6 separate regions of the Homo sapiens genome follow, and all the other regions are linked to region 1. Evidence: fine-mapped QTL for protein levels in blood plasma. A gene starts in region 1. Each other region holds a variant in brackets. All regions are shown on one strand. Distances are between the middles of the regions.

Region 1 (5,001 bases):
GGGACTTTCTTTTTTCTTTTTTTTCAATTTTATTTACTTCTTTTTTGGAGACAGGGTCTCACTTTGTCATTTAGGCTGGAGTACAGTGGCGTGATCATAGTTCACTGCAGCCTCAAATTCCTGGGCTCAAGTAATCCTCCTACCTCAGCCTACCAAGTAGCTGGGACTAAAGATACATGCCCCCATGCCCGGCTAATTTATTTTTATTTGTTTGTAGAGATGGGGTCTCACTGTTGCCCAGGCTGGTCTCCAATTCCTGGGCTCAAGCAGTCCTCCTGCCTGACTCTCCAAGTGCTGAGATTTGTGTCCAGCCACAAAGGGACATTTTCATAGGGCTTCCTCAGGACATGACAATGGGCTTCCTATAGTGAGCAATTCAAGAGAGCAAGGAGAAACCCACAGTGTCTTTTGTGACCTAGTCTTGGAAGTCAACCACCAGCAATTCTGATTCTATTCATTAAACCAAGTGACCTCAGATGATCAGCCAGCCAACGTGCTGGGATGACAGGCGTGAACCACCATGTCTGGCAAGAAATTTTGTAATTCCTTTAAGTGTTATCCTTAAAAACAAGTGATTGATTATAAAAGTTGTATTTCTTCATCCTAAAATTGGTAAAAAATAAAAAAAAAATGTGTTTAGTTTCTACTATGCATTTAGTTTTTTTTTTTTTTTTTTTTTTTTTTTTTTTTTTTTTTTTTTTTTTTGAGACAAAGTTTTGCTCTTGTCACTCAGGCTAGAGTGCATTGGCACAATCTCGGCTCACTGCAACCTCTGCCTCCCAGGTTCAAGAGGTTCTCCTGTTCAGCCTCCCAAGTAGCTGGGATTACACCACCACGCCCGGCTAATTTTTGTATTTTTAGTAGAGACAGGGTTTCACCATGTTGGCCAGGCTGGTCTCAAACTTCTGACCTCAGGTGATCCACCCGCCTCAGCCCCCCAAACTGCTGGGATTACAAGCCTAAGCCACCATGCCCGGCCCTTTCATTTAGTTTCTACTATTCATGTACACATGTACCCTGTTTTACCCACAGACAACTGTGCTAACCGTTAAGAATGTCCCAGCCTTACTAAGATTTTCCTAAGTTTGTCTCCCAGACATTGGGAACTCAAAGGTGAAGAAACTTAGGTGTGAAGGTGGATTGTGGATTCAGACCTCCTTACTTGGAGGCCAGTGCAGAGACACACCAGCAGAGTAACCTCGGGTACATGGCTTCACCTCTCCAAGCCTCACACTCCTCATCAGTAAAGCGAGGATTAGTGGAACCTACCTGTTGGCTTGTTTTGATGATTAAATGAGATAATGTCCGCGAAAAATATTTAGCAGATAAATGTTCACTAAATTTTGAGCTTTAAAAAAATGTTTTACCAGCCAGGCGCGGTGGCTCACGCCTGTAATCCCAGCACTTTGGGAGGCTGAGGCCGGTGGATCACCTTAGGTCAGGAATTCGAGACTAGTCTGGCCAACATGGTGAAACCCTGTCCCTACCAAAAATACAAAAATTAGCCAGGTATGGTGGTGGACGCCTGTAATCCCAGCTACTTGAGAGGCTGAGGCAGGAGAATCGCTTGAACCCAGGAGGCGGAGTTGGCAGTGAGCGGATATCTCGCCGCCGCACTCCAGCCTGGGCAATAGAGTGAGACTACATCTCAAACAAACAAACAAACAAGCAAACAAAGTTTAACTGAAAAGTCTTTCCTGACACCTTTTCGCTACTGAAAATCTTACAGCCCCTCCCGGCCGCAGCCTACACTCCTTCGGCCCAAGCAGGTGCGCTGGAACCGGCAGTTGGTGAGAAGCCGGCTGCCGGCAGCCCCAACCCTTAGCGGCCCCGCGGTCAGGGACCTCCAGGCCCGATGGAGAGTCGGGGCGGGCTAGTGGATGCGCGGCGGGGACGGGAGGTGTCGCCGCTCCGGCTTGCCGGTGACAGGGGCGGGCGGGTCGTGCGCGGGCCCCACCTCCAGCGATCGCAGCCCAGCCCCAGCTCCTCCTCCTCCACGGCTTACCCGGGCTCCGACAGCGGCTGCAGGTCTCCAAGTTGCGGCCGCTGGAGCCCGAGCCATGCGGACCGCGGACCGGGAGGCGCGCCCGGGGCTTCCGTCCCTGCTGCTGCTGCTGCTGGCCGGGGCCGGGCTGTCAGCCGCCTCGCCCCCAGCAGCGCCGCGCTTCAACGTGAGCCTGGACTCGGTCCCCGAGCTGCGCTGGCTGCCCGTGCTGCGGCACTACGACTTGGACTTGGTGCGCGCCGCGATGGCGCAAGTCATCGGGTGAGCTGGGGCCCTGGACGGGGTCTGCGGGGACACCGGCCCTGCGGGTCGGAGTCAAACGCGCGCTGCTCAGAGTGCTTTAAACGGGGACGCTTTACTCCCCGCCACCCTTGGAGAACTGGTTTTGGCTGCCGCCCTGAGCAGCGTCCGGGTTGGGGAGAATCCAGCGCGGCAGGTTCGGCTTTCAAGTTCGGTGTCACCCGTGGCACGCCAGTCCTTGAGCCATTCCGGGTCAGCGTGGCGCGCGAGTTGTCGCCCGGGCTGCATAGCTACCAAGGAGGGGCAACCCGCGCCTTCCTTGCGGGCCTCGCGGGCCTTCCAAGCTTGCCCCTTTGGGACCAGCCTCACTCGCCCTCCCCATTCGGAGTTTTCTTACCCGCCGCCTTCCCCCCGCCCCCTTCCCCCCACTCCCGGGAGGCTGCAGATTGAGTGACGCCGCGCCTGGGCGGTCCACTGACTGGGGAGCAGTGGCCCTGAGACCTCACGCCCTAAGGATGTAGCCCCGCTCGCAGTGCACACGCAGTCGCACGCCGCCGACCTCTGAGCGGGTCAGACGCCCTTGTGCTTTTTGTTTCTAGGGACAGAGTCCCCAAGTGGGTGCACGTGTTAATCGGAAAAGTGGTCCTGGAGCTGGAGCGCTTCCTGCCCCAGCCCTTCACCGGCGAGATCCGCGGCATGTGTGACTTCATGAACCTCAGCCTGGCGGACTGCCTTCTGGTCAACCTGGCCTACGAGTCCTCCGTGTGAGTGCCCCAAGCCCGCGCGGAGTAACGCGGGGCTTGCGGGGGCCCCCGACACAGACTAGCGGGAGGAGACATATTTTCCGTGTGATAAAAACAGGGCGGTGCCTGCTTGCCTAGAAACCTCCAGCGCTTCCTCTTTGCCTCTCTGGGTAAATCTGAGCTGCACATCGTAGGCTTCGAGAGGGAAAGCAGATTCTCCGATTCAACACTAAACTTTCCCTCTACGTGTAGCCCCGGGTTTTCTCTTCCCCAATCCAGGTAGCGTACTTTTAAAATTCTGCTCAAAGGCCGGGCGCGTTGGCTCACACCTGTAATCCCAGCACTTTGGGAGGCCAAGGTGGGCAGATCACGAGGTTAGGAGTTCGAGATCAGCCTGGCCAACATAGTGAAACCCCGTCTCTACGAAAAACACAAAAAATTAGCCAGGCGTGGTGGTGGGCGCCTGTAATCCCAGCTACTTAGGAGGTTGAGGCAGGAGAATCACTTGAACCCGGGAGGCGGAGGTTGCAGCGAGCCGCGATCGCGCCACTGCACACCAGCCCTGGCGACAGTGCGAGACTCTGTCTCAAAAAAAAAAAAAAAAAAATTCTGCTCAAAACGTACTTTTCCAGGAAGTTTTTGAAACTAAGCCTCCTCTCATCTGGACCCTTTAGTTAACTCAGTGGCCTTCCAGCTCTATACTGGCAGTGGCTCATCTCTGCCCTTATTTGTCGCCCTGCATTTATCCTTTCATGTGTGTCGTGGCTGAAGTGTCTGTGTCCACCAGGGCTGGGGCGACAGGGAACACTGCTCTAATAGGGCCAGCCAGTGTTTGGACCGGGAAGTGGGCATGATAAAATGTGCATCCAGGCTGGGCGCGGTGGCTCACGCCTGTAATCCCAGCACTTTGGGAGGCCGAGGCGGGTGAATCACCTGAGGTCAGGAGTTCAAGACCAGCCTGGCCAACATGGTGAAACCCCGTCTCTACTAATAATACAAAAAAATTACCAGGGCCTGGTGGCGGGCACCTGTGAATCCCAGCTACTTGGGAGGCCGAGGCAGGAGAATCACTTGAACCCAGGAGGCAGAGGTTGCAGTGAGCCAAGATGGCACCATTGCACTCTGCAGCCTGGGCGACAAAGCGAGATTCCATATCAAAGAAAAAAAGTGCACCCAGAAGTGAAAGCAACATGGAGTGTGTGGTTGATCCCAGGCAAAGTGCAGGGGACCACTAAAGGTTTATGGGCTCAGTAATAGGCCCTGGAATAAAGAGAGGTTTTGACTTGGTTTCTTCCTTCAATACTTATTGTTTTGCCAGCAGACTAGCTTCATCTCGTAACCTCTTGTACATACTTAGAGCTTCTTGCTGCCTAAAGATGATGGGGGTAGAAAAGATCTTGGAATAATGAAACTTTACTGGCCCAGGCATTTTCCCAGAACACCTAGGCAGAGTAAGCTAAAAAGCACTGGGACTGCCTTCCTCTTCAGGAAATGCTTTCAGGCACAGAAAAGACACAGGCCTGCTAAATAACATGCTTTTCAGTTGAACTAAGTTATTATAATTTTACCACCTCCCTCTCCTACCTCCAACTTTTTCCTATTTTTAACTTACAGCTTTCTCAATGAAAAATCACGAATCATTTTTACCCTCATCTGTTGGAGTCACCATATTCAAACACATTAAAGCAAAAGTTCTAGTAAAAACATTCTAACTTTTGGATTTGATACTAAGGTATTTATTGAATTGCCTAATAGCACCATTCAATTCACTAGCATTAACAAAGGAAATGCTTTCTTCTCATGTTGGAAGTAAGCCTTCTTGAATTAGAATAATACTAGCTACCCTTTATTGAGCCTACTGGGTGCCAGGCACTTCATGAACACAGTCCCGTGGGGAAGATGGTATCATCTGTTTTGTGATGTGGAAACCAAGCCTCAGTGGGGCCACCTTGCTGGAAGTCAGGTGGCTGGTGAGTGCTAAAAGCATGGGAATCTCCAGTTCGCTGCAGTGCC
Region 2 (5,001 bases), 360 kb after region 1:
CAACATCACAGAGTTTGGTGTAGTTTGCTATCCTCTTCTTTGAGAGTGAGAAAATTAGCTGTATGTTATTCTATGTATAATTTAATATATTTACTTATTTGATTAATTATTTTGTATATATCTAACTTCCTATTACTGCTACTATAATTTCCTTTTTTTAAAAAAGATATCTTTGTCATGTTTTAACATTAAGGCTAGTCCAGGCTGGGCGCAGTGGCTCACGCCTGTAATCCCAGCACTTTGGGAGGCTGAGGTGGGCAGATCACAAGGTCAGGAGATCGAGACCTTACTGGCTAGCTAACATGGTGAAACCCCATCTCTACTAAAAATACAAAAAAATTAGCTGGGCGTGGTGGCAGGCGCCTGTAGTCCCAGCTACTCGGGAGGCTGAGGCAGGAGATTGATGTGAACCTGGGAGGCAGAGCTTGCAGTGAGCCAAGATGGTGCCACTGCACTCCAGCCTGGGTGACAGATCAAGACTCCATCTTAAAAAAAAAAAAAAAAGAAAGGTTAGTCCAAACGTTTTCTAATTTCCCTTGTAATTTCTTCTCTCACCTATGAATTATTTAGAAATGTTGTTTAATAGCCAGGTATTTGAGGTTTCCCTAGATATCTTATTACTGATTAATTTGTAATTTAATTCCATTGTAGTCAGAGAATACACTCAGTGTGATCTTGATTTTTTTAGATTCAATGAGACATGTTTTATGGTCTACGGTCTATCTTGGTGATTGACTTCATTCCCTTGAAAAAATGTATATTCTTTGTTGTTGGATTAATTGTTCTATAAATGTGAAATTAGATCAAGGTGGTTAATAGTACAGTATTCTTCAGGTCATCTATGCTCTTAATTTTTTTTGTTTAGGTCTATCAGTTCTTGAAAGAGTGCTGTTAAAATCTTTTATTATGTTGTAGAATTGCCTATTTCTCTCTTATATCTGTTTGTTTTAATTTAATTTAATTAATTAATTTATTTCAAGACAGAGTCTCGCTTTGTTGCCCACGCTGGTCTTGACCTCCTGAACTCAAGTGATCCACCCACATCGGCCTCCCAAAGTGCTGGGATTACAGGCATGAGCCACCATACCTGGCCTGTATCTATTTATTTTTGCTTCATGTATTTTATTATTATTTTTTTAGAAATGGGGTCTCACTCTGTTGCCCAGGCTGGAGTGCAGCGGCATGATCATAGCTCACTGCAACCTTGAATTCCTAGGATCAAGCGATCTTCCCCCATCAACCTCCTGAGTAACTAAGACTACAGGCACAGCTCACCACACCCAGCTAATTTTTTCTTTTTTGTTTTGAGAGATGGGGTCTTGCTCTGATGTTGTGGCTGGCCTTGCTGTGTTGCTCAAACTCCTGACCCAAACTCCTGACCTCCTCCTGAGCCTCTTGAGTAGCTGGGATTACAGGAGTGAGCCACCATGCCTGGCTGCTTTATGTATTTTAAATCTCTATTATTAGGTATTTGCACATAATTGTCTTGTCTTTCTGATACATTGTACCTTTTCTCATTATGAAATGCCTCTCTTTATCTCTGTAGTGGTCTGTGCTTTGAAGTCTATTTTATCTGATATTAAAATAGCCATTCCAAACTTCTTATACGTATGTTTGCATAGTAAATCTTGTTGATTTCATTTACTTTCACCCTATCTGTTTTTTATATTTATATTTAAAGTGTTTCTTTCACAGACAGCATATAAATAGGATTTTTCCTTTGTATACATTCTGTCAGTCTTTGCCTTTTAATTGGAATGTGTATTCGTTTATTATTTCTGCTACCTTAGAGATGTGGTAGTCCCCCCTTATCTATAGTTTTGCTTTCTGCACTTTCAGTTACCTATGGTCAACTGTGGTCTGAAAATGTTAGTGGAAAGTTCCAGAAATAAACAGTTCTTAAGTTTTAAATTGCACACCATTTTGAATAGCCTGATGAAATCTTGAGCTGTCTGGCTCTGTTCTGCTCAGGACATGAATTGTCCCATTGTCCCGTGTATCCATGTATGCTACCTACCCTTTTATTGCTTAGTAGCTGTCTAGGCTTTCAGATTAAAAAAAACACAATACTGTATATTTAGGGCTTGGTACTATCTGAGGTTTCAGGCATCCGCTGGGGGCCTTGGAACATATCCCTCATGGATCGGGGGGACTACTTAACACACTAAATTAATATCTATTTATTTTCTCACAGTTTCTGGGTCAGGAGCTAGGGCACAGCTGCTTCTCTGAATGAGTCTCACAGGTGGAAATCAAGGTGTCTGCAGGGCTGCATTATTTTCTGGAGGCATTGGGGAGAAACCATTTCCAGGTTCACTTGGGTTGTTGGGCTAATTTAGTTCCATATGGTTGTAGGGCAGAAGTCCCTATTTCCTTGCTGGCTAACAGCTGGGGGTTGTTCTCACCTTCTAGATGCCACTCACATTCCTTGGCTCATGGCCCACTTCCTCTGCCTTCAAAACCAGCAACAGTGGTCAAATCTCTCTTACACTTGAATCTCTCTGACCACTCCTTCTGCCACATCTCTGACTTACTCTGATGCTAAGAGCTCACATGATTACACTCGGCCCACGAAGATAATCTATCCTAATTAGTAACATTTAACAGCTAATTAGTAACAATTAACAGCTAATTAGTAACATTTATTCCATGCACAAAGTCCCTTCATATCGGTACTGAAATTAGTTTGATTAACTAGCTAGGGACAGGAATCTTAAGGGCATAGCTTTACAATCCTGCTGATCACAGAATGTTTAGACCATTAACATTTAATGTGATAATTGATATTTTTGAATCTAGTCCCA[T/C]CTTTTTATTATTTGTTTTCTGTTTGCTCCTCTGTTTTTCCTTTCCAGTTTTCTTTTGTTTTTGAATAGTTTCAGTATTTTTTCGGCAATATCTTTTTATATTTTTTTTAGTGATTGCTCGAGGAATTACAATATACATCACTAATTTTTCGTAGTCTACATTGTACCCCTTGAAATAAAAAGTACGAATTGCCCATCCATTTCTCCATCATCCAGGAAAGACGTTGGTTTTGAGGTTGACATACCTATAAAGGACAGTAACTACCATGGCTTCCACCGCTTTGGCAAAACCTCAGATGTGTGGTCTTCTGGCCAAATGTCTGCAATTTCATATTGTTGGAGCCTTTATTGTATCCCTGGGGGTTGCAGCTGTCTGTAAGATTGCTGTGGCTGAACCAAGAAAGAAGACATATGCAGATTTCTACAGAAATTATGATTCCGTGAAAGATTTGGAGGAGATGGGGAAGGCTGGTATCTTTCAGAATACAAAGTGATTTTGGAATGCAAAGGATTTCTTTGGGTTGAATTACCTAGAAGTTTGTCACTTACCTGTGTTCCTGAGCTATGAAACATGAATATGTGGTCTAAGAAATAGTTTCTCTTGATAAATAATTAACAACAAAAAAAGTAGGAACATTGCTAACATATTCCCTTCTTCCCAGTTTGCACTTTAAGTTAGAACTTCATATGTACTACATTTACATATCTCCAGAACCCCAATACGTTATATGTTTTGTTTTAAACAGTCATAAATAGTTTAAACAATTTATGAGAAAAAGTTGTCTTTTATATTTACCTAGCTCTTTACCATTTCTGTCGGTCTCTCTTCTTCCCTAGATTTTCCTCTGGTATTATTTTCCTTCAGCCTGAAAATCTTCTTGTTAGCATTTCTTGCAGAGCAGGTCTGACGGTGACAAATGTTCTTAGTTTTTCTTCATTTGAGAATGACTTTATTTTACTTTAATTCTTGAAGTATATTTTATTGGATATGGAATTTGGGTTGACATATTTTTGTTTTTGTTTTTCCTCCCAGCACTATAAAGATGGGATTCTTCTGTCTTCTGATCTCTGTAATTTCTGGTGGGAAATTCTCAGGCATTTGAATTGTTTCCCTATATGTAATGTTTCATTTTCCTCTAGCTGCTTTCAAGATTTAATTTTTATCTTTTCTTTTCATTAGCTTAAATATGATGTATCTAGACATAGTTTTCTTTGAGTCTGTCCTGTTTGGGGTTTGCCAGCCTTCTTGAATCTTTAAACTTATATATTTTACCAGATTTGGGGAGTTGTTGGTCATGTTTTTTGAAATTTTTTTTTCTGCCATAATCTCTCACCTCTCCTTCTGAGAGTCTAATGATATGTATGGTAGACCATTTAGTATTTTCTCATAGGTTCCCGAGACTCTGTTCACTTTTTCTTAATCATTTTTCTTTCTGTTCTTCAGATTGGGCCACTTCTATTCATCTATCCTCAAGTTCTCTGACTTTTTACTTTATCATCTTCATTCTGCTATTAAGTCCATCCAGTGAGATTTTAAAATTTCAGATACTGTGCTTTTTAGTCCCAAAATATACATTTGGTTCCCTTTTATAGCATCTGTTTCTCTGCTAAGAATTCCTATCCCTTCATTCATTTCAAGTATGTTTTCCTTTACTTCATGTAGCAGAGTTATAAGGGCTGCTTCAAAGTCTTTATATGATGGTTCCAACAGGTTTCTGTTTTTGTATTTTTGTAATAAGTAGAAGAGATGGGCTGTAGTGGGCTTACACTGCCTTGGCAGATCAGAAGTATCTTTTAACATATGCATAAACTAAGATCAAAGAATAACATCCACTCAGCAGTCATGTTTGGGACTAAAGAAAAGGAAAAGAACAATGTCCCCTTACTTCATTCTTTTCCATGTAGGCAACTTGAGCTATGAATAGTTAATTATAAACATCTAATATTTGAACAAATAGAATTGAAATTTTGGGGAAGTGGAACTTTTGCAATTACTGAGAACCTATGATGCTCTATTATTAATTTATAGGTATCAGGACCTCCCCTGTCAGATGATTCAGGGGCTGATTTGCCTCAAATGGAACACCAGCACTGAGAACCATTTTGGTTCTGAACTGGGTAGGTGTGATTTCCCATACTTAAAGCTGTGCAGCCTTTCACAGGTACTATTTTGTGGCTTGCTGAATACCAATTTTTC
Region 3 (5,001 bases), 340 kb after region 1:
ATTATTTCTGTTTTCCTTGAAGTGACAAGATCACTTTGTTTATTTGTTAAAAGAAAATGTTTCCCATAGACCCAAAGTCTTAATAACCATAGTTTTTCTGTCAGTCTTTCTTTCAAGTAAAAATATCTAGTTTAGTTTGTATCACAAATAATTATGCAAGCATTTTTCTTAAGACAACCATAGTGTTTCGGTTTGTAGCAGAGGTGCTTTACGTATATTCTCATTTTGTCACACAGACCATAAAAAAAGGATGCGTTTAAGAGTTTGGCTTTAATGAAGTCAATACCTTTTTGCTGATTCATCAGAGACATTCTTAAGCAAGACTGCCTTTTTTTTTTTTAAAAAAAAAAAGCAACTGAGAATGTGTGGTTATCAAGAAAGTAATGACTGCTAGTACATTTTGGTTTTGCTGCTTTTCTTCTTGGTAAGGTGTCAGCAGTTTTATCCACCACTGCTTTCATGTTAACCTGGTGAGAAAGACAAACATCTTTATGTTAAAATAATAGCATTGACTTTGTGAACCTTCTGAATGTTCTTAGGGATCCCCAAAGATCTACACACCACCCTTTCCAAACTGCTGATCTAGGCCAGGATTTTTCTCATTTTTAATAACATAGACTAGTTTAACATTCAATTTTTAAAAAATAAATATCTTGAAAGTCAATTTTTTTGTAGGTTTATCCATGTCTTACAATTTTATTTTATTATATTTTTATGTAGGTTTTCCCAAGAACTACAGTTAAAAGTACAGAAAGATGCCAGAAATGTTTCTTTATCTAAAAAATCCCAAAACAGAAAGAAGGAAAAAGAAAAAGATGATTCCTTAGTTGAAGAAAGAAAAACACTTGTGGTACAGGTAAATGTTCATGTTTCACATTTTAGATTTAATATACTTATTTTTTTAAATTTTTTGAGAAAAAATATGATTTTGAAAAAAGTTTTCTGAGCAGTGAGCAAATTGTTAACTTTTAGTTTAGTTGTAAAAATGTATCTTCTCAGTAGATATTACCTGTTTAGAAAACTTAACATATCATGTTTTGAGTACCTGTTATGTGCCAGACTGTGCAACAGTGCTTAAATCACATTCATCCAAGAACATCTAGATATGTGTTTTCATGAACACATATACACACAGACACATGGAACAAACAACCCTCACCCCACTTATCTTTCTTAAAGGATATGAGTGAAAAATATTGTCTGTAGAAATTTATATGAAGTAAAAATTTGAAAAGTGAGATTTGGATACTTAACTTAGGTTTGCTTTTCCTGGTGAACTACCCAGGATCTGTTCTTGATAAGGTAATTCAAATCCACCACCAATCCACTTATATCAAGTACACCAAAAGAAGAAAGAGTTATCAGTTTTGTGTTCCATGACTCTGAATATGTAAGAACAAAAGTGGAATTCTTGATTCCTCTTCCATGAGTTTTTCCACTGATGTGTGTGTATGTGTGTGTGTGTGTGTCTGAGTGAGCTGTGTGAATTGCATTTCCATTCTTTTTGTATTTTCCCAATAACTATCTGAATAAGAATCTGGCTTTAATTTTAATCCCCTAGGAAGAATAAAGAAAACAGTTTCAAAAAGGTGATACTTATGATATTCTGCTCTAGTTGACAAGTACTTTATAAGAAGAGGTAAATTTTCATTCTCTTCAGATCATTAACCTTATTAATATTTTTGTTAATGATCAGGATACCAATGCTGATCCCAAAATTAAGGATTATAAACTATTTAAAATAAAAGGCTCAAAAATTGATGGAGAAAAAGCTGAAAAAGGCAATAGAGCTTCAAATGCCAGCTGTCTCCATGACAGTAGGACAAGCCACAACAAAATAGTGCCTTCAACAAGCCTCAAAGACTGCAGCAATGTCAGCGTGGACCACACAAGGAATCCAAGCGTGGCAATTCCCCCACTTACACACAATCTTTCTGCAGTTGCTCCCAGCATTAATTCTGGAATGGGGACTGAGACTATACCAATTCAGGGTTACAGGTATGAATTAGTAAAATAAGATCAAAAAAGTGTTTAAGGACATATTTGCAAATTGCAAGGGTTTGTCAATTCATCCACATTGTTTTTATTCTCAGAATTCTGGATGCTATTCATTCTTGTCAGGTAGCTGTTTCAAAAGACTTTTTGGCTGTGTGATGAAGATTATTAGCATTTGATCAAAACAATTCACCAAAGTCCTGAGAAAGTAGGGTTTTATTGCTTAAGGTGAAGAGAATCTACAGCTATATAGTCTAATAATGTGAAAGCAGGTTGTCATACTAAAAGAGATAATTTTTGAGTGGCTGCTGCTGCATGGTGTGACTGTGAGCCTATAGTAGTATAAGGAAGCTCCATTTGGGAATTTTGCTGAAAGGAGGGTAATGTATTTGGTAGGAGTTGGGGGCTGCTGGGAGGCATGAGGGTAGTGTTAAAGAATAGAATGTTTCACCAGATTTATGTGCATTGTATATTTGAGAATAGACATTACACTCTGGTTAAACTGCTTGTTAGTTGGTGCTGTGTCATTTAGTTTTGTGCTTGAAAAAATAATTATTGCTGGTTCTAACTTAAAAACATTTTTTTTTGTCGTTACA[G/A]AGTGGATGAGAAAACTAAGAAGTGTTCTATTCCATTTGTTAAACCGAACAGACATTCCCCATCAGGCATTTATAACATTAATGTGACCACATTAGTAAGTAAGCAGTTCTCAGTAGTAGAAGAGCAAACACCAGTCAGCTCTAGACTTTTATTAAAATTAAATATGATAGTGAAGTATTGAGAATTTTGTTTGGATACACATAAAGTGAAACCTTAATTGTGCATATATTATCCCAACCCATCATAGTCATAAACGTGAAATTCTGAAAGTTTAAGTTTTATGAGTCTAAAAACTCCTTCCTTCCTTTCTTCCTTCCTTCCTTCCTTCCTTCCTTCCTTCCTTCCTTCCTTCCTTCCTTCCTTCTTTCCTTCCTTCCTTCCTTCCTCTCTTTCTTTTTCTTTTCTTTTTTTTTTCATGGAGTCTTGCTCTGTTGCCCAGGCTACAGTGCAGTGGTGAGATCTTGGCTCACTGTAACCTCCACCTCCTGGGTTCAAGTGATTCTCCTGCCTCAGCCTCCTGAGTAGCTGGGATTACAGGTGCCTGCCACCGCACCCAGCTAATTTTTTATTTTTAGTAGAGACAGGGTTTCACCATCTTGGCCAGGCTGGTCTTGAACTCCTGACCTCGTGATCCACCTGCCTTGGCCTCCCAAAGTGCTGGGATTACAGGTGTGAGCCATCTGTGCCTGGCTTGTTTTATTTTTTCTTTAGTAACATAGTAAATTTTCTCAACTTGATGATTGCTGGTCAGTTCTTTTTTAGAGTAGATGAAAAGATAAATTGTCTTATCTCACCCACACCAGATTTTTGGTGGCTGTATTCTATTGGCCAGGGACAGTAGCACACATCTATAATCCCAGCACTTTGGGAGGCCGAGGTGGGAGGATAGTTTGAGCCCAGGAGTTTGAGACAAGCTTGAGCAACATAGCAAGATCCTGTCTCTACAAAAAATTTTTTAAAAAGTTAGCTGGGTATGGTGGCACATGACTGTAGTCCTAGCTACTTGGGAGGCTAAGATGGGTGGGTTGCTTGAGCCTGGAAAGTTGAGGCTACAGTGGTAAGCTGTGGCTGTAATTGTGCCCCAGCACCTCAGCCTGGGTGACAGACCAAGACCCTGTCTCAAAAAAAAAAAAAAAAGAAGAAAGAAACGATTCTATTTATTTATATAATAAATATTTATCAATCGTTATGTGTGAGACACTGGAAATAAATAAGTCAATCTTTCTTTTCAAGGACTTCATGATCTAGAGGATCAGCAAATTAAAGCATAGTATCATATTGTATTTAGACAGAGCACAGGAAGGACCATTATTATTCTCAGCATGGCCTCCAGAATGTTTCTCTTTTGAAGTTAGGTGAAACCCTCATCATTCTTCTGCTAAACTTCCTCCATTAGCTTCTTATCACTGAGGAAAGGCCAAAGTCCTTATAGGGTCTATAAGTGCCTGCAGGATTGACTCCAACCAACCCTCTATCCCATCTCCACCTACTCTTTCTCCATCAATCTGTTCTACCACACTGATTTCCTTGTTATTCCTGGAACATAGTCAGACATACTCCCACCTTTGGGCTTTTGCACTTGCTATTTCTTTTGCTTTGGAACATTCTTCCCCCAGATAACCCAATGGATTTGCTTTTTCTCTTCTTAGCTCACATGAAACCTTACTGTGAAGTCTTGTAACTCATTATGCCTCCCTTTATGTTCGATGCCTTCTCCTTGCTTATTTTTTTTTCCATTGCATTTACCTGACATCGTCTATATACTCTTATTTATATATTGTCTGTCTCCCCCAGCTAGAACGTAAGATTCCAAGGCAGAGATTTGTGCTTTTGTTTTCTTCACTGTACTTTTCCTTCCTATGCAAGTAGAAAAAATAATTTTTTTTTTTTTTCGAGTCAGAATCTCGCTCTGTCGCCCAGGCTGGAGTGCAGTGGCATGATCTCGGCTCACTGCAACCTCCGCCTCCCAGATTTGAGCGATTCTCCTGCCTCAACCTCCCGAGTAGCTGGGATTACAGGCACCTGCCACCACACCCAGCTAATTTTTGTATTTTTAGTAGAGGCGGGGTTTCTCCATGTCGGCCAGGCTGGTTTCGAACTCCTGACCTCAGGTGATCTGCCCACCTTGGCCTCCCAAAATGCTGGGATTACAGGCGTGAGCCACCAGGGCTGGCCTAAAATTTAAAAATGAGTTCAAACTACCAGATTAATATATTCAAAGAGTGAAAATAAAACACAAAATAAATATTTATAATAATACATTTATTCACACCTTAGAATGGGGGTATAAAACATGGGAGAGAGGTATTGTCCTTTAACCTACAAGTTGAAGAAAGTCTAGGCTTATCTCTGCTTGCATTAATTTTCATTAAGGAAAGACTCCATACTGAATGAATGAATGCTTTTCAC
Region 4 (5,001 bases), 310 kb after region 1:
AGGCATGAGCCACCGCATCTGGCTGAAATTGTTTCCTAAAGCATCACTTGTTCGCCAAATCCAGTATTTTCAGTCTTTATCCTTTGGTTCCCTGTGAGATATAAATAGATTATTGAAGCTTCTAGGCCTCTTGCATGAAGGGGCCTTAAAATGTTATACGGTTGAATATGATTATAAAGTTGCAAAAGTAAAATAGTTTTGCGCTCTTGTTCTTAAGCTTCAGGCCCAACAAAACTGAATCTACCCCCATATAAAAGAAGTTCATCAGATTCTCTTATAGCCTATAGAGGTACCAAATGGGACAGGGCTTCTCGCAACTTGGACACAGCTAAGGACAGAGCTAATTGCTACACTAAGAGTCACATCTTGAATTGACCAAATAATTCTATTCTTTCCATAACTAGGCCTCAGGTCTGGTTCTCAATATTACAGGTTCAGGAACTAGATTTTAAGCAGTCTGACCAAGGTAATTAACCACTGGGAGATTAATGCAAACTAACCAAACTCACAAAAGACTATAAAAAGAATGTCTATTTCTTAATGTACAAGAAGGAATCAATACCTTAACATTAATGATTAATACCTTAATATTGACTAGGGTATATGGTAGACATTTGTCTATCCAGGACACTCTATTCCCTAAATCAAAGTAGTTTCGAGACCAAAATGATCATGAACATTTAGTTATCATGATTGAAAGTGTTATTTTACTGGCCTTATGGCCTCCTCGCTGCCTCAGATTCTTTGAAAATGGGGTAAGCTCTGTTCCTGTGTGATTTAAGCCTGTGCATGATTCTGACCTACCAGTCTTGCTCAGTCGTGGATTGAGCTGCATTTTTGCATTTAAGGCAAGTTTTATCGCAAGCCCTAACTCCACCCCATTTGGCTGCCATACGCGGGTGTTGTGCGTGTCCTCCAGATCCCCAGCCATCCCAGCGCTTTCCCATTCCACTCATGCCCTCTCTTCCCCTTCCTCCATCTCAGTGTTTTCCCTCACTTTCAATGGCCAGACTGGCCTTCCCAAGGTCCCTCCTAACGTCAGGTCTGTCATCACCTACCTTCTTCCACCTTGCCTCGCCTACTAATCATCACCTCCTAAACTGTCACCGTTATCTCCTACCTGGCTCACACTGGCCCCACCGCCCAGAACAGAAAGGAAGCATGGAATCCCGGTCAGGCCGCGCCTACGCGACTCAGGGCGCCCGGCGCCCGCCCCTGCCCCAGCGGCGATGCTATGAGGGAAACCGTATCGCATTTTGCATAGTCTTCGCAGTCCTACATAACCGCCACCTTTACCCTTCGCGTGGGCATCACAATCGCCTCCTCCCGCTGGGGAAGGCAGAAAGGCGCCTCCTGACGAGAACCAAGGCGTGTGGGGACGCAGGGCCTCTGCGTGTCAGGGAGCAGAACCTGGGCCGAGCCCTAGGTGAAGGGGCGGGGTGGTTGGCCCTGAGCCAATCATGGCTCGTGACGACTCGGCTCGGCCAATCAGAAGAAGGGAGGCCTGGCGCTCTCGGGGCGGGTGAGAAACCGCCCCCCCTTGCAGCTCCGCGGCCAACGCCTTCGCCCAGGGGTAGTTGGAGCGGTGCAGGTTCCCAGGCTCCAGGTACTGGGCGCCTTACGAGCTGGGAGGTGGTGCCTCTCACCCAGCTAATTGCTCTCTAGCCCTTGGCCTTCACAGGTGTTGGTGCCTGCCGTGAACGCATTCTGACCTGGGCCGTATCTGTCTCCCAAGACTTTGTGCCTATGGTTGGGGACAGAGTGAGGTCGTTGCCTTGACGACGACAGCATGCGGCCCGTGGTCCTCCTAAGTGTGAGCTTGCGGCGGACCGAGGCCCACCTGCCTCCCTGCCTGCTTCGCCCTGGACTCGTGACTGCGTCCGCAGAAGAAATCACAACAGCGCTGGAATTGCTAGTTTGCTAGGCAGCATCTTTTGGACCTGCGAACCATATGCATTTCACCTCAAATTTGTTTCCAAGTTGAAAACCTTTGGGTCTTTCTATGCGAACGGATTGAAGAAACGGTAAGTATAGTACGTTTTAAAGCTTCTATTATCTCGTTCTTTGATCTATAAAAGATTTCAATCTTTTTTTTTTTTTTTTTTTTTTTTTTTTTTTTTTTTTTTTGAGACGGAGTTTCACTCTTGTTGCCCAGGCTGGAGTGCAATGGCATGGTCTCGGCTCACCGCAACCTCTGCCTCCTGGGTTCAAGCGATTATCCTGCCTCAGCCTCCCAAGTAGCTGGGATTACAGGCATCACCACCACGCCCGGCTAAGTTTGTATTTTTAGTAGAGACAGGGTTTCTCCATGTTGGTTAGGCTGGTCTCGAACTCGCAACCTCAGGTGATCCGCCCGCCTCGGCCTCCCAAAGTGTTGGGATTACAGGCGTGAGCCACCGCTCCCGGCCCTTTAATCTGTCTTAAACAAAATAAAAAATTAGCATTCTCCAAATATTTTTATCAAAATTGTTGCTTTTAGAACCATCCAGAAATAACA[C/T]CTTGCCCATTGGCCAGGTTTCTTTTTCGTTTGTATTACCTTTCCGTTCAAGAGTAGAAGGCATGAGAAGTTATAGTTTATGAGTAACTGTTTCAGGAAACAGGAGGCTTTGTAGGCTGTGATACTTTTAAAGTATTTGTGGACAGTGTCACTTGAAAAAGCAGGTGTGTTCAATGTGGTGTGTCCAGATATGCAATTGGTTGGGAGAATAAACTTGAAGCAGTCAACTTGCATTAATGTTAGCTTGGGATATGCTTCAGAACACCTCAGACATGCTTAAAGTCATTTTTTTTGGTTCACTTTGTGCTTTCAAATATTGAGGACATCAATTACAAAATGTTTTAAAATAATCCAGGTTATAGATTCAAGCTATTTTTGTCATTGGTATGATAAACCTAAAGCCTAGTGCTTAATAAAACATACTCTCTTAATGGAAGAGAAAAAAATTAAGAAGGGATAGAATTATATGGAGATTTTTTTTTTCAAATACAAACAGTTTATTAAAAAATAGTTAATGGAAGTGGAATAGAAGGTAAAATGTCAAATGCATGGAAAGTTAGTGTCTGGGACACTGCTCTGTAAAAAGTTTGTAGTAGAATCTACTATGAAAACTGGTAGTAAAATAATAATTTAAGTCGATGTTCATTGGTATTGTTTTCATTTCCCACCCCTCAAGATCAATCTTCTGGTTCTCCACATATAGCTACATTAAAAATATATATATTATAAAATCTCAAACTATTATATGTCAAGTGTGGAAAACGTATTGTATACATTGGATTAGCATAGTTTGCTAGAACAAAGAGAATATTTGTTTTGTCTTTGCATCACTGTTCCAATAGAGAAATAGGAAAAACAGTTCACGATCTGAGTAAATTTTAGATTGCCGTAAGTATACAATTAATACAACAGGCAAGAATTATTTCTTGTTAAAATCTATCTGTATTTGGACTGAAATAATTTTTTATCTATTATTACTGAAATAATAGATAGTTAAAATCTATCTGTATTTGGACTGAAATAATTTTTTTCTGTACGAAAGCATTTTGTCCAATGATTGCTGGACCTTCGTCAATCATTGGTAAAACAAGAAAGATTCTCTTAGGATTGCCTTTATTCAGAAAATGTCATATAATATGAGTAAAAAATTTCAAGGCCGGGCGCGGTGGCTCACGCCTGTAATCCCAGAACTTTCGGAGGCCGAGGCGGGCAGATCACGAGGTCAGGAGATCGATACAATCCTGGCTAACACGGTGAAACCCCGTCTCTACTAAAAATACAAAAAGTTAGCTGGGCGTGGTGGCAGGCGCCTGTAGTCCCAGCTACTCGAGAGGTTGAGGCAGGAGAATGGCGTGGACCCGGGAGGCGGAGTTTGCAGTGAGCCAAGATCGCGCCACTGCACTCCAGCCTGGGCGACAGAGCAAGACTCCGTCTCAAAAAAAAAAAAAAAATTTCAAACACAAATTCAAATTATACTTATAGTGAGTAATCATTAACAGGGTTTTTGAAATACTTTTACTGTACTTGGTACTACTAATATTTAATTTAATTTAATAATTACATTAAATTTAATAAAATTTAATTTAATTTTAAAAATCTGCTTATATACCGATGTCATTACTCTTATTTTCTAAGTTCAATATAGTAACAGTAACATGGCGAAACCCCGTCTCTACTAAAAGTACAAAAATTAGCTGGGCGTGGTAGCGGTGCCTGTAACCCTAGCTACTGGGGAGGCAGAAACAGGGAATCGCTTGAACCTGGGAGGCAGAGGTTGCAGTGAGCCGAGATCGCGCCAGTGCACGAGACTCCGTTTCAAAAAAAAAAAAAAAAAAAAGAAAAAAAAAGTAAAGAAAAATATTTTATGAAAGATGCTCTGTGTTAATTTGTTATGTGATCAAATATTTTTTCCAATTAAGTGGAAGGTGCATAAGTATTTCCAACATTGATCTAAATCCAGTGTAACAAAAAAGTTGATCTTTATTAAAACTAAATTCAGGCCGGGCGCTCTGGCTCACGCCTGCAATCCCAGCACTTTGGGAGGCCAAGGTGGGTGGATCACTTGAGGTCAGGAGTTTGAGATCAGCCTGGGCAACATGGCAAAACCCCATCTCTATGAAAATACAAAACTTACCCGGGTGTGGTGGCTCACGCCTATAATCCCAGCTACTCAGAGGCGGAGGCAGGAGAATTGCTTGAACCCAGGAGGTGGAGGTTGCCGTGAGCCTAAATCTCACCACTGCACTCCAGCCTGGGCAACAGAGCAAGACTCCGTCCCAAACAAACAAACAAACAAACAAACAAAATCCCCCACCAAATTCAGTTATACATCTTTGAGTGAAAAGGAATTGTGCTTTTTTTTTTTTGAGACAGAGTCTCACTCTGTCACCCAGGCTGGAGTGCAATAGTGCTATCTTGGCTCACTGCAACCTCCGCCTCCTGGGTTCAAGGGATTCTCCTGCCTTAGCCTCCCGAGTAGCTGGGACTATAGGGGTGCACCACCA
Region 5 (5,001 bases), 280 kb after region 1:
TAAACTATACTGGATAATGTTTTCGGTTTTTTGTTTTTTGAGACAGAGTTTCGCTCTTGTTGCCCAGGCTGAAGTGCAAGGGTGTGATCTCAGCTTACTGCAACCTTTGCCTCTGAGTTCAAGCAATTCTGCTGCCTTAGCCTCCTGAGTAGCTGGGACTATAGGCGCGTACCACCAGGCCTGGCTAATTTTTTGTATTTTTAGTAGAGACGGGCTTTCACTGTGTTAGCCAGGATGGTCTCGATCTCCTGACCTTGTGATCCTCCTGCCATTGCCTCCCAAAGTGCTGGGAAGTAGGCATGAGCCACTGCGCCTGGCCTTGGATAATGTTTTCATTTGACAAGTAAAAGACGGATTTGTTCATGAGAGAGCTTTGACTGTGTATAGAGCTAATGTATCAGATAAAATTTTACACTGTGCATTCCTGTGTGAGATTCTTCACATTTTCAGGTGTCATTGGAAGAAGTGGAGTGTGATATATTGTATTTAACTTTTTCTAAAAAGGTTGTTAGGTGAGGCTAACAACCACCTTATTGAAGATGGTAGTTATCTTTGAAGGTGCTAATCTAAGAACTTTCTAAAGATTTCTTTTTGTGTATAAGTATCCTTTAATCTTGGCTATCTTTTTTTTTTTTTTTTTAAACAGTGTCTCACTCCTGTTACCCAGGTTTGAGTGCGGTGGTGCCATCTTGGCTCGCTGCAGCCTTGACTTCCCGGGCTCAGGCATTCCTCCCACCTCAGCTTCCCGAGTAGCTGGAGCTACGCTTGCACACTACCACGCCCCGCTAATTTTTTGTATTTTTTAGTAGAGACGGGGTTTTGCCATGTTGCCTGGGCTGGTCTCAAACACCTGAGCTCAAGCGATTCACCCACTTTGGCCTCCCAAAATATTGGGATTACAGGTGTGAGCCACTGCACCAGGCCTTCTTGGCTATCTTTGTAGAACTGTATAGTCTTGTAGGCTTGACCGGGGATTTCTTCTCAATTTGTAAACTAGGAAATCGAGATCCAGTAAGGTCATGAGTTTTTCATGGCCATGGATAAGATAGTTGAAACCTTTTACTCCCATATTCAGAATTTTGTTTCGTTTTGTTAACTTTTTTTAAGAAATGGAAGGTCCCAGATCTAGAAATGGATTACCTGTAAGATGATTTGCTATGAATAATAAAAATGGCACAATTCTTTCTTCTTGTAATCACTTTTATTCTGAAAGTGTAATTTGGCTTTTTTCCTTTTTCTCAACCTTCTTACGTACACTGCATGAATTATAAATACGAACTTTATATTACTTACTCAATTTTCATAGTCTTATTTCCTGCAATACCCAAACCACGTTGTTTGATGGTTGATCTCTAGTAGTCATTTTCTGGTTGATTTCTATCAATTATATTTTGGCTCTCTAAATTCTGAGTCACTTCAAATCGGAGTTATGGTTAAAGAAGTAACTGATGTAATTAGTTGAAACACTGTTCTCTCAGTAAATCTTGATTTTGTTTTACCATTCCTTTGGGAGCCTCCTCTGCACCTTAAAAGCTCAGCTTTCTATATAACCTGTTATATGCCTGTTTAGATTTTACCAGATTAGCATTGCCTTACTTATTTACCATTTGAAGTTAACTTTTCAAGTTACTGCCTTCCAATAGTTCTAAGTATTAATTTATTGAGTATTGATTAATCAAATATTACTTCTACTGCCCTTCCCTGTCTCTCTGTTCTAAATTGATGGTATGTTGGCCATTATACTTCAGTGACCATGTAGATAGTGGGCAATTTGAAGCTTTTTTTGAACCTTGTTACAACAAATCTTTAGAGCATTTTGACCTGTGATATTATATATGTATTATGTACCATTTTATTTTGGTTTGAGAAACAAATATGTAAGTGACAAAAATGATAGATCAGTATGTACTCTATGAATATGATGGGAAATTTGGGATAAATGACAACAGTGTTCCTGTAGAAAATCTGGAAATCCAGAGAGAAGAAAACAATTCCCAAACCCGGAAATTCCTAATAGTATTTCTGTCACTATCAATTTAAAGAAAACTATTTTGTGTATAGTTATTTTGTTCAGAGAGTAATGTAGTATTTTCCCATGTGTTAGTATTATTTTACCATCAGTTTTTATGGTGTTAAAATACATATAATTTCCATGTTTTAGTTATCTTGTTAAATTTTACCAGGTAAGTCTACTGTTCTTTACCCACCCTCATTATTCAAAATAAAAATGTTAGTTGCTTAGCTGTGTGTGTGTGTGTGTGTGTGTGTGTGT[TTGTTTG/G]TGTGTTTGTGTGTGTGTGTGTGTTTGTGTGTTTGTGACTACAGGTGTGCACCACCATGTCTGGCTAATTTTAGATGGGGTTTTGCCTTGTTGCCCAGGCTGGTCTTCAGCTCCTAAGCTCAAGCAGTCTGCCCACTTCGACGTCCCAAAGTGCTGGGATTACAGGCGTGAGCCACAGCCCAGTGCTTTGTTACTTTAAATGTAGCATATGTGAGTCCTTTTTGCACTAGGGTTGTTACCCTTATTGGGAGTTTTAAGTTTTCTGGAAAATCAATGACACCTGAAATGGCAGTATTTGGATCTGCTCTTTGTGAATTAACTATTTTTGAAAGCAAGTGAGGCATTATAAAAAATTTTAAACAGATTTGGGGATTTTTGTAAATCAAGTTTGAGAGTTTAAGAAGGACAGTTAGAGGAGGGATAGTTTGTTGGAAAGGAAGAAACAAGGAACCTAAAAACATAATGTAGAAGTTGAATTGTGAGTCACTAGAATTATGTAAAGCTACACTCTATCTGTAAGCTCTACTATAGTTGGTATTTGATTTTTATTAAAAACAGCATCACAATTTTAATGACCTATGCAGGGCTGTCTCTGAAATTGTTTTAGTTATTTAAAGTAAACACACATGGAAATTGACTTTTTATTTTTAATTTTTTGTATAGAGATGGGGTCTCTCTGTTGGCCAGGCTGGTCTTGAACTCCTGGCCTCAAGCTTTCCTGCCACCTCCACCTCCCAAAGTGCTGGGATTACAGGCATGATCCACTGTGCCAGCCTGCAGTGTTTTTTTGTCTGTTTGTTTTGAGACAGAGTCTTACTCAGTTGCCCAGGCTGGAGTGCAGTGGTGTGATCGCGGCTCACTGCAACCTTTGTCCCCCAGGTTAAAGTGATTTTTTGTGCCTCAGTCTCCTGAGTAGCTGAGATTACAGGTGTGTGCCATCAGCTCTGCTAATTATTTGTATTTTTAGTAGAGATGGGGTTTCACCATCTTGGTCAGGCTGGTCTCGAACTCCTGATCTCAAATGATCCTCCCAGCTCAACCTGAAGTTTAAGCAGGACTTTATTTATTTATTGAGATGGAGCCTCACTCTGTTGTTGCCCAGGCTGCAGTGCAGAGGCATGATCTTGGCCCACTACAAACTCTGCCTCCTGGGATCAAGCGATTCTCCTGCCTCAGCTTCCCAAGTAGCTGGGACTACAGGCGCCAGCCACCACGCCTGGCAAATTTTTGTATTTTACTAGAGAAGGGGTTTTACCATTTTGGCCAGGCTGGTCTCGAACTCCTGACCTCAGGCGATCTGCCCACCTTGGCCTCCTGAAGTGCTGGGATTACAGGCGTCAGCCACCGCACCTGGCTAAGCAGGAATTTCAACTGCATCCTGATTTACCCAGTAGATACATGCTTAGGAATTATGATTTTTTTTTTTTAGTACTTTTAAGTTTAATAGGTCTTTTTAAAATAAAACAGGTGGCTGGGCACGGTGGCTCACGCCTGTAATCCCAGCACTTTGGGAGGCTGAGGCAGGTGGATCACGAGGTCAGGAGTTCAAGACCAGTCTGGCTAACATGGTGAAACCCCGTCTCTACTAATAATACAAAAATTAGCCAGGTGTGGTGACACGTGCCTGTAGTCCCAGCTACTCGGGAGGCTGAGGCAAGAGAATTGCTCTGCCGGGAGGCAGAGGTTGCAGTGAGCCAAGATCGTACCACTGGACTCCAGCCTGGGCAACAGAGCAAGACTCCATCTCAAAAATAAAATAGGTTATATTTCATATTTTTATTTTTTATTTTTTTGAGACGAGTCTCGCTCTGTCGCCCAGGCTGGAGTGCACTGGCGCGATCTTGGTTCACTGCAACCTCCGCCTCCCGGGTTCAAGCAATTCTCTGCCTCAGCCTCCGGAGTGGCTGGGATTACAGGCACCCACCACCACACCTGGCTAATTTTTTTATTTTTAGTAGAGATGGGGTTTCACCATCTTGGCCAGGCTGGTCTTGAACTCCTGCCCTTGTGATCCACCCGCCTTGCCTCCCAAAGTGCTGGGATTACAGGTGTGAGCCACCGTACCTGGCCCTGGGGATTATATTCCTACAGTAAATGATAAGTTTTGTTTGTGGCTCACACCTGAAGTGAGAGGATCACTTGAGGCCAGGAGTTCGAGACCAGTCAGGGCATTGTAGCCAGACCTCGTCTCTGCTAAAAATAAAAATTAAAAAATTTAAAAAAATTAGCCAGGTGCATGCTTATAGTCCCAGCCACTCAGGAGATTTAGCGGGGAGGATCGCTTGAGCCTGAGCCTGAGCCTGGCAGTTGAGGCTGCAGTGAGCCATGATTGCACCACTAAACTCCAGCCTAGGTGACAGAGCGAGACCCTGTCTCAGAAGACAAAAATAGGAAATTGTATTTATTTCATGTTAGTTGTTCTTGTTGGTTTTAACTTTGAGGCACATTATCATAGCACCTAACCCATTCTGTTAAGTTTCCAGTTTGCTTGTTTATATTTCTTGACAGACTATAAACTCCTTGAGGGCTAGAGACTTATCTTGTTCACTAGAGTATTTCATTTATTATAAACAGTATCTCATGTAGTTAGATGCTTAATTAGTGGAAAGAAAGAGAGACATAATATCAAAGGTAAAAAATGATTCTCTCTAAGTACTGAAGTTATAGCTGGTGATTAATCATTGTTACCATTTTGAAAATGGTGAAATTAATTCCCAGAAGGA
Region 6 (5,001 bases), 340 kb after region 1:
CTGCATATTTGTTTGTGCCTGTGTGTTTGTGATTTTTTAAGCTGTTGCATTAAAGATTATATATGTTTTAAGTGAAGGTAGGGAGCATATAGGAAAACTCTGTGTGTGTGTGTGTGTGTGTGTGTTTTGAGATGGAGTTTCGCTCTCCTTGCCCAGGCTAGAGTGCAATGGCGCAATCTCGGCTCACTGCAACCTCTGCCTCCTGGGTTCAAGCGATTCTCCTGCCTCAGCCTCCCGAGTAGCTGGGATTACAGGCATGTGCCACCATGCCCAGCTAATTTCGTATTTTTAGTAGAGATGGCGTTTCTCCATGTTGGTCAGTCTGGACTCGAACTCCTGACTTCAGGTGATCTGCCCACCTTGGCCTCCCAAAGTGCTAGGATTACAGGCGTGAGCCACCGCGCCCAGCCACGTGTGTGTTTTAATTTATTTTTTCCTTCAGTCTGGCATTGGTCTATCTGATGCATGTTCTTTTTTATTTTTTGAGACGGAGTCTCGTTCTGTCACCAGGCTGGGGTGCAGTGGCAATCTTGGCTCACTGCAAACTCCGACTCCCAGGTTCAAGCGATTCTCCTGCCTCGGCCTCCCAAAATGCTGGGATTGCAGGCGTGAGCCACTGTGGCCCGCCCTGGTGCATGTTCTTAATCACGCTCACATCCCCTTTCCCCTCAAGAGAGAGGAAAAGAGCAGAGGTTGTGCATTTCTCTGTACTTTTACATACCGTTAATTACATGTAGAGAGGATGCAATGATCATTTATTATTCTTGAGTCAGTAAGCATTTGGTGTAATGTGACTACTGTCCTTACTTTCACATTCAAGAGGAGAGACACAGAGATTTCCAAGGTTGATTTAATCTTGGCACAGATTTGGACTTCTGCTATTAGTGCTTTTGACAGAATTTCAAAGCTGGACTATCAAAATCTTACGTTTGTTGAAATATCAACTTCATGTTTGAAGATGGAGCTTAGAAATGGAAATAATGGGAAAATACTTGGGGGTAATTTAACTATTTGATTTGAAGTTTTCAGATTAGAAATTAAATAAGCAGTACAATAGTTTCTTACAGTGGAATTTTCAGATATATTCTACATTCAACTAGATATTAAAGTTGAGAAAAAAGATTAAAGTGCTCAAATCTGACTTTAAGATAAGCACAAAATCAGTTGACCAAATATTAAATTCTTAAAGGGGAGAACTGATTTATCTAGATTAGATCCTGTCCATATGACTATTAATATATTTGTTGTTTTATTCAGCACTTTATGCTTTCTAGTTAGAAACGAAGTGCTGGTACTTATATCTGGAAAGTTATAAAATATTTTTTACCTGTCCTTTTCCTATGCTCCTTAAGACTGCCATATACCACCACAGTAACGGCATTGTCTTTGGTCAATTTTGCATGTTGAGAGAGCCCCAAACTCCATAAGCTGTGTTCCACTATTTCCTCTACTTCACACCACCTGTCTCTTCACCATTTCTATCATGTTGTATAATAACAGAGATATGTGCTGTTTTCACTTCCAGGTAATCTAATTCCAAGGCATCAGGAGCTTTTTAATAAAAATCCTGTGTTTGCTGGAGTAAGGTTGCCTGAAATCAAGGAAAGAGAACCTCTTGAAAGACGCTATCCTAAGCTCTCTGAAGTGGTGATAGATTTAGCAAAGGTAATCATACTTATTGTTTACACTTTATGACAGGGAATTTATGCACTATCAAGACCTTTTTTTTTTTTTTTTACTTGTCTAGTTGATCTTTTTTTTTTTTTTTTGATGGAGTCTTGCTCTGTCACACAGGCTGGAGTGCTGTGGCATGATCTCGGCTCACTGCAAGCTTCACCATTCTTCCGCCTCAACCTCTCTAGTAGCTGGGACTACAGGCGCTCGCCACCATGCCTGGCTAATTTTTTGTATTTTTAGTAGAAACGGGGTTTCACTGTGTTAGCCAGGATGGTCTCAATCTCCTGACCTCGTGATCCGCCCGCCTCGGCCTCCCAAAGTGCTGGGATTATAGGTGTGAGCCACCAGCCCTGGCCTCTAGTTGATCTTTTAGGTCAACAATTTCCTCTAATAATTTTAATTTTTGTACATTTAGAAACAATTTAAATAATTTGATGGGGGTAACTTCAGAGAAAAAGGACTGAAAATTTTACCTGTTTTAACACTCATTAAGAAACCATTTATTGGCCGGGCGCGGTGGCTCACGCCTGTAATCCCAGCACTTTGGGAGGCCGAGGCGGGTGGATCATGAGGTCAGGAGATCGAGACCATCCTGGCTAACAAGGTGAAACCCCGTCTCTACTAAAAAATACAAAAAATTAGCCGGGCGCGGTGGCGGGCGCCTGTAGTCCCAGCTACTGGGGAGGCTGAGGCAGGAGAATGGCGTGAACCCGGGAAGCGGAGCTTGCAGTGAGCCGAGATTGTGCCACTGCAGTCCGCAGTCCGGCCTGGGCGACAGAGCGAGACTCCGTCTCAAAAAAAAAAAAAAAAAAAAAAAGAAACCATTTATTGTTATCTAGCATTTTGTAAATGTGAAAACATCCTCACTGAAAAACACATTAAAAACATAAAAACACTGTATGATTTTTACGTTTAACATTTAAAATACACGCCTTGTTTAAATGGAAAAGAAAATAAAAGTAGGATAAGAAAATAAAAAGGGTCTGGGCATGGTGGCTCACACCTGTAATCCCAGCACTTTGGGAGGCTAAGGCCGGTGGATCACTTGAAGTCAGGAGTTGGAGACCAGCCTGGCCAACATGGCAAAACCCCATCTCTATTAGAAATACAAAAAAATTAGCTGGGCATGGTGGTGCATGTCTGTAATCCCAGCTACTCGGGATGCTGAGACAGGAGAATCACTTGAACCCAGGAGACAGAGGTTACAGTGAGCTGAGATCGCACCACTGCACTCCATCCTGGGTGACAGAGTGAAACTCTCTCTTTAAATAAATAAATAAATAAAGGATAGAGAAGTAGGAAAATATTAAAATGTAGGGCATAGGATGGCCGGGCATGGTGGCTCATGCCTGTAATCCCAGCAGTTTGGGCGGCCGAGGCACGTGGATCATGAGGTCAGGAGTTCAAGACCATCCTGGCCAAGATGGTGAAACCCCATCTCTACTAAAAATACAAAAATTAGCTGGGCGTGGTGGCACGTGCCTGTAACCCCCGCTACTCGGGAAGGTGAGGCAGAGAATTGCTTGAACCTGGGAGGTGGAGGTTTCAGTGAGCTGAGATTACGCCACTGCACTCCAGCCTGGGCAACAGAGCGAGACTCCATGTCAAAAAAAACAAACAAACAACAACAACAAAAAAAAAACAAAATGTAGGGCATAGGATCATGATCTGTATGATATTGTCAAAGGGGTTTTTGCTTAGCCACTGTATTGGCTGCAGCCAGTTTACAAATGGCCAATACTTTTTTGTTGTATTTGATTAAGGAAGATGTTAGGTTTTCATTCTATCAAGTGAGAATCAACTCTAAAATTTGACCTTTTTGGGGAATTTTTAGCTCAAAAAGTTCTCATCAGTTAAGATTGTTTAAATATTGATAAGATAGGTACCTCTAAAACACTAGGCTATAAGATTTACCCAATTTTTTTGTTTTTTAATTCTTTAACTCATGACGTTTAATAAGCTTATAACTAATTAAACAAGTTCTTAGAATAATACATTTCCAGTTTTTTACATAATCTTCTAACAGATGCAAATATTTTTAATTGGTACAAGCTTTGTGATCTATCTGTAAGGAGATATAAAGGGAATAAAGGTAAAACTATTGTCCAACTTGTGTACCTTAATCATACCTTAAGGAATCATATAAAACTTTTAAAACATTTTATTATGGAAAATTTCAAACGGAAAAGAAAATAGAAAGAATAGTTGTTTAACAAACCTTCATGTACTTATCATCTAGTTTCCACAATTATCAACCTTTTGATAATCTTGTTTAATTTATCTACACTCTTTAACTTTTTTTGGAGTATTTTGAAGCAAATCCCAGATGTATTATTTTA[C/G]TTATAAGTAGCACAGTTATGCAGAGAAATTTTCTTGTTCATTTAAAGCTACTTATTGAGTCCCTTCTATTTTTACTGGCATGTTAGGGGTTTTAATGAATCAGAACAAGACTTTGCAATAAAATAAAATAAAATAAAATAATCTTTGTAAAGCATCTAGCATAGTGATAAGCACAGGATAAATCCTTTCCTTTCCATTCTGTAATAGCCTTAAGTTTTAAAAATTCCAAATAATTTCTTACTATCATAAAATATCTAATTGATGTTTAAAGTTTCATTAATTTTCACAAAATTTATTTCATTTCATAGTTTGAATTAGGATCTAAATGAAGACTATAGATTGCAATTGGTCGATATATTTTTAAAACTTTATTTATAAGCTTCTCTTCATCTCTTTCTTTTTTGTTTAAATCTTGCAATTTATTTGTTGAAGAAACTAAGTTGTTTGTCCTTAGAATTTTCTACATAATGCAGTATACATGTTCTTCTGTGTCCTGTATTTCTTATAAACTCACAGTAGAGCTAGAGCTCGATCAGAATCAGGTTGATTTTTTGGCAAAACTACTTCATAGGAGGTTTGTGTATTTCCATATAGAGACACTGAATGTTTGGTGGTCTTTTTGTGATACTAGCAACCACTGACGGTCATTGTCTAGATTTGTGCTTTATTCTTTATCCTTGATTATTGATGTGTAAAATTCATTGGCGGGCAAGTGTGGTGGCTTGCGCTGGTAATCCCAGCATTTTGGGAAGCTGAGGAGGGTGGATAGCTTGAGCTCAGAGTTCGAGACCAGCCTGGGCAACATGGCGAAACGCTGTCTCTACAAAAAATACAAAAATTAGCTGGGTGTGGTGGTGTGCACCTGTGGTCCCAGCTACTCAGGAGACTGAGATGGAAGGATCACCTGAGCCTAGAGAGGTCAAGGCTGCGGTTAAGTAGTGATCACACCACTGCACTCTAGCCTGGGCAACAGAGTGAGACCCT

Direction of the effects. Alleles are on the strand shown, and positions count from the first base shown. The strength of an association depends on the size of the effect and on how common the allele is.
With allele C in place of T in region 2, the plasma level of the protein whose gene starts at base 1,997 in region 1 is lower (weak association).
In carriers of allele G in region 3, the plasma level of the protein whose gene starts at base 1,997 in region 1 tends to be higher than with A alone (weak association).
For the plasma level of the protein whose gene starts at base 1,997 in region 1, T is the high allele of the variant in region 4 and C is the other (strong association).
In carriers of allele TTGTTTG in region 5, the plasma level of the protein whose gene starts at base 1,997 in region 1 tends to be higher than with G alone (moderate association).
For the plasma level of the protein whose gene starts at base 1,997 in region 1, allele C in region 6 goes with a higher level than allele G (moderate association).

Evidence for each region. PIP is the posterior inclusion probability: the model's chance that the variant is causal. Protein levels are from antibody-based Olink assays in UK Biobank. Linkage for the fine-mapping came from a reference panel and not from the study's own genotypes, which makes the PIPs less certain.
Region 2: its variant is fine-mapped to the plasma level of the NAAA protein (UK Biobank, PIP above 0.99).
Region 3: its variant is fine-mapped to the plasma level of the NAAA protein (UK Biobank, PIP above 0.99).
Region 4: its variant is fine-mapped to the plasma level of the NAAA protein (UK Biobank, PIP 0.97).
Region 5: its variant is fine-mapped to the plasma level of the NAAA protein (UK Biobank, PIP above 0.99).
Region 6: its variant is fine-mapped to the plasma level of the NAAA protein (UK Biobank, PIP above 0.99).

Annotation. Positions count from the first base shown.
Region 1 is chr4:75,938,009-75,943,009 of GRCh38, reverse strand. It overlaps NAAA (N-acylethanolamine acid amidase), which reads left to right and starts at 1,997. Exons shown (of 11, transcript NM_014435.4): 1 at 1,997-2,266; 2 at 2,845-3,009. The coding sequence starts at 2,061. RefSeq lists silencers at 1,775-2,244, 2,645-2,714.
Region 2 is chr4:75,581,731-75,586,731 of GRCh38, reverse strand. It overlaps CDKL2 (cyclin dependent kinase like 2), which reads left to right. Exons shown (of 14, transcript NM_001330724.2): 13 at 4,834-4,922. The coding sequence ends at 4,899. It also overlaps the pseudogene COX6CP9. Among named protein-coding and RNA genes, the nearest start is that of ODAPH, 28 kb to the right of the region's middle. The variant T/C (reference allele first, on the strand shown) is at 2,805.
Region 3 is chr4:75,593,932-75,598,932 of GRCh38, reverse strand. It overlaps CDKL2 (cyclin dependent kinase like 2), which reads left to right. Exons shown (of 14, transcript NM_001330724.2): 8 at 721-856; 9 at 1,697-1,998; 10 at 2,593-2,686. Among named protein-coding and RNA genes, the nearest start is that of CDKL2, 34 kb to the left of the region's middle. The variant G/A (reference allele first, on the strand shown) is at 2,592.
Region 4 is chr4:75,627,065-75,632,065 of GRCh38, reverse strand. It overlaps CDKL2 (cyclin dependent kinase like 2), which reads left to right and starts at 1,538. Exons shown (of 14, transcript NM_001330724.2): 1 at 1,538-2,024. The variant C/T (reference allele first, on the strand shown) is at 2,498.
Region 5 is chr4:75,662,928-75,667,928 of GRCh38, reverse strand. All of the region lies in intron 1 of G3BP2 (G3BP stress granule assembly factor 2), which reads left to right. Among named protein-coding and RNA genes, the nearest start is that of G3BP2, 8.0 kb to the left of the region's middle. The variant TTGTTTG/G (reference allele first, on the strand shown) is at 2,273.
Region 6 is chr4:75,600,481-75,605,481 of GRCh38, reverse strand. It overlaps CDKL2 (cyclin dependent kinase like 2), which reads left to right. Exons shown (of 14, transcript NM_001330724.2): 6 at 1,526-1,665. Among named protein-coding and RNA genes, the nearest start is that of CDKL2, 28 kb to the left of the region's middle. The variant C/G (reference allele first, on the strand shown) is at 4,017.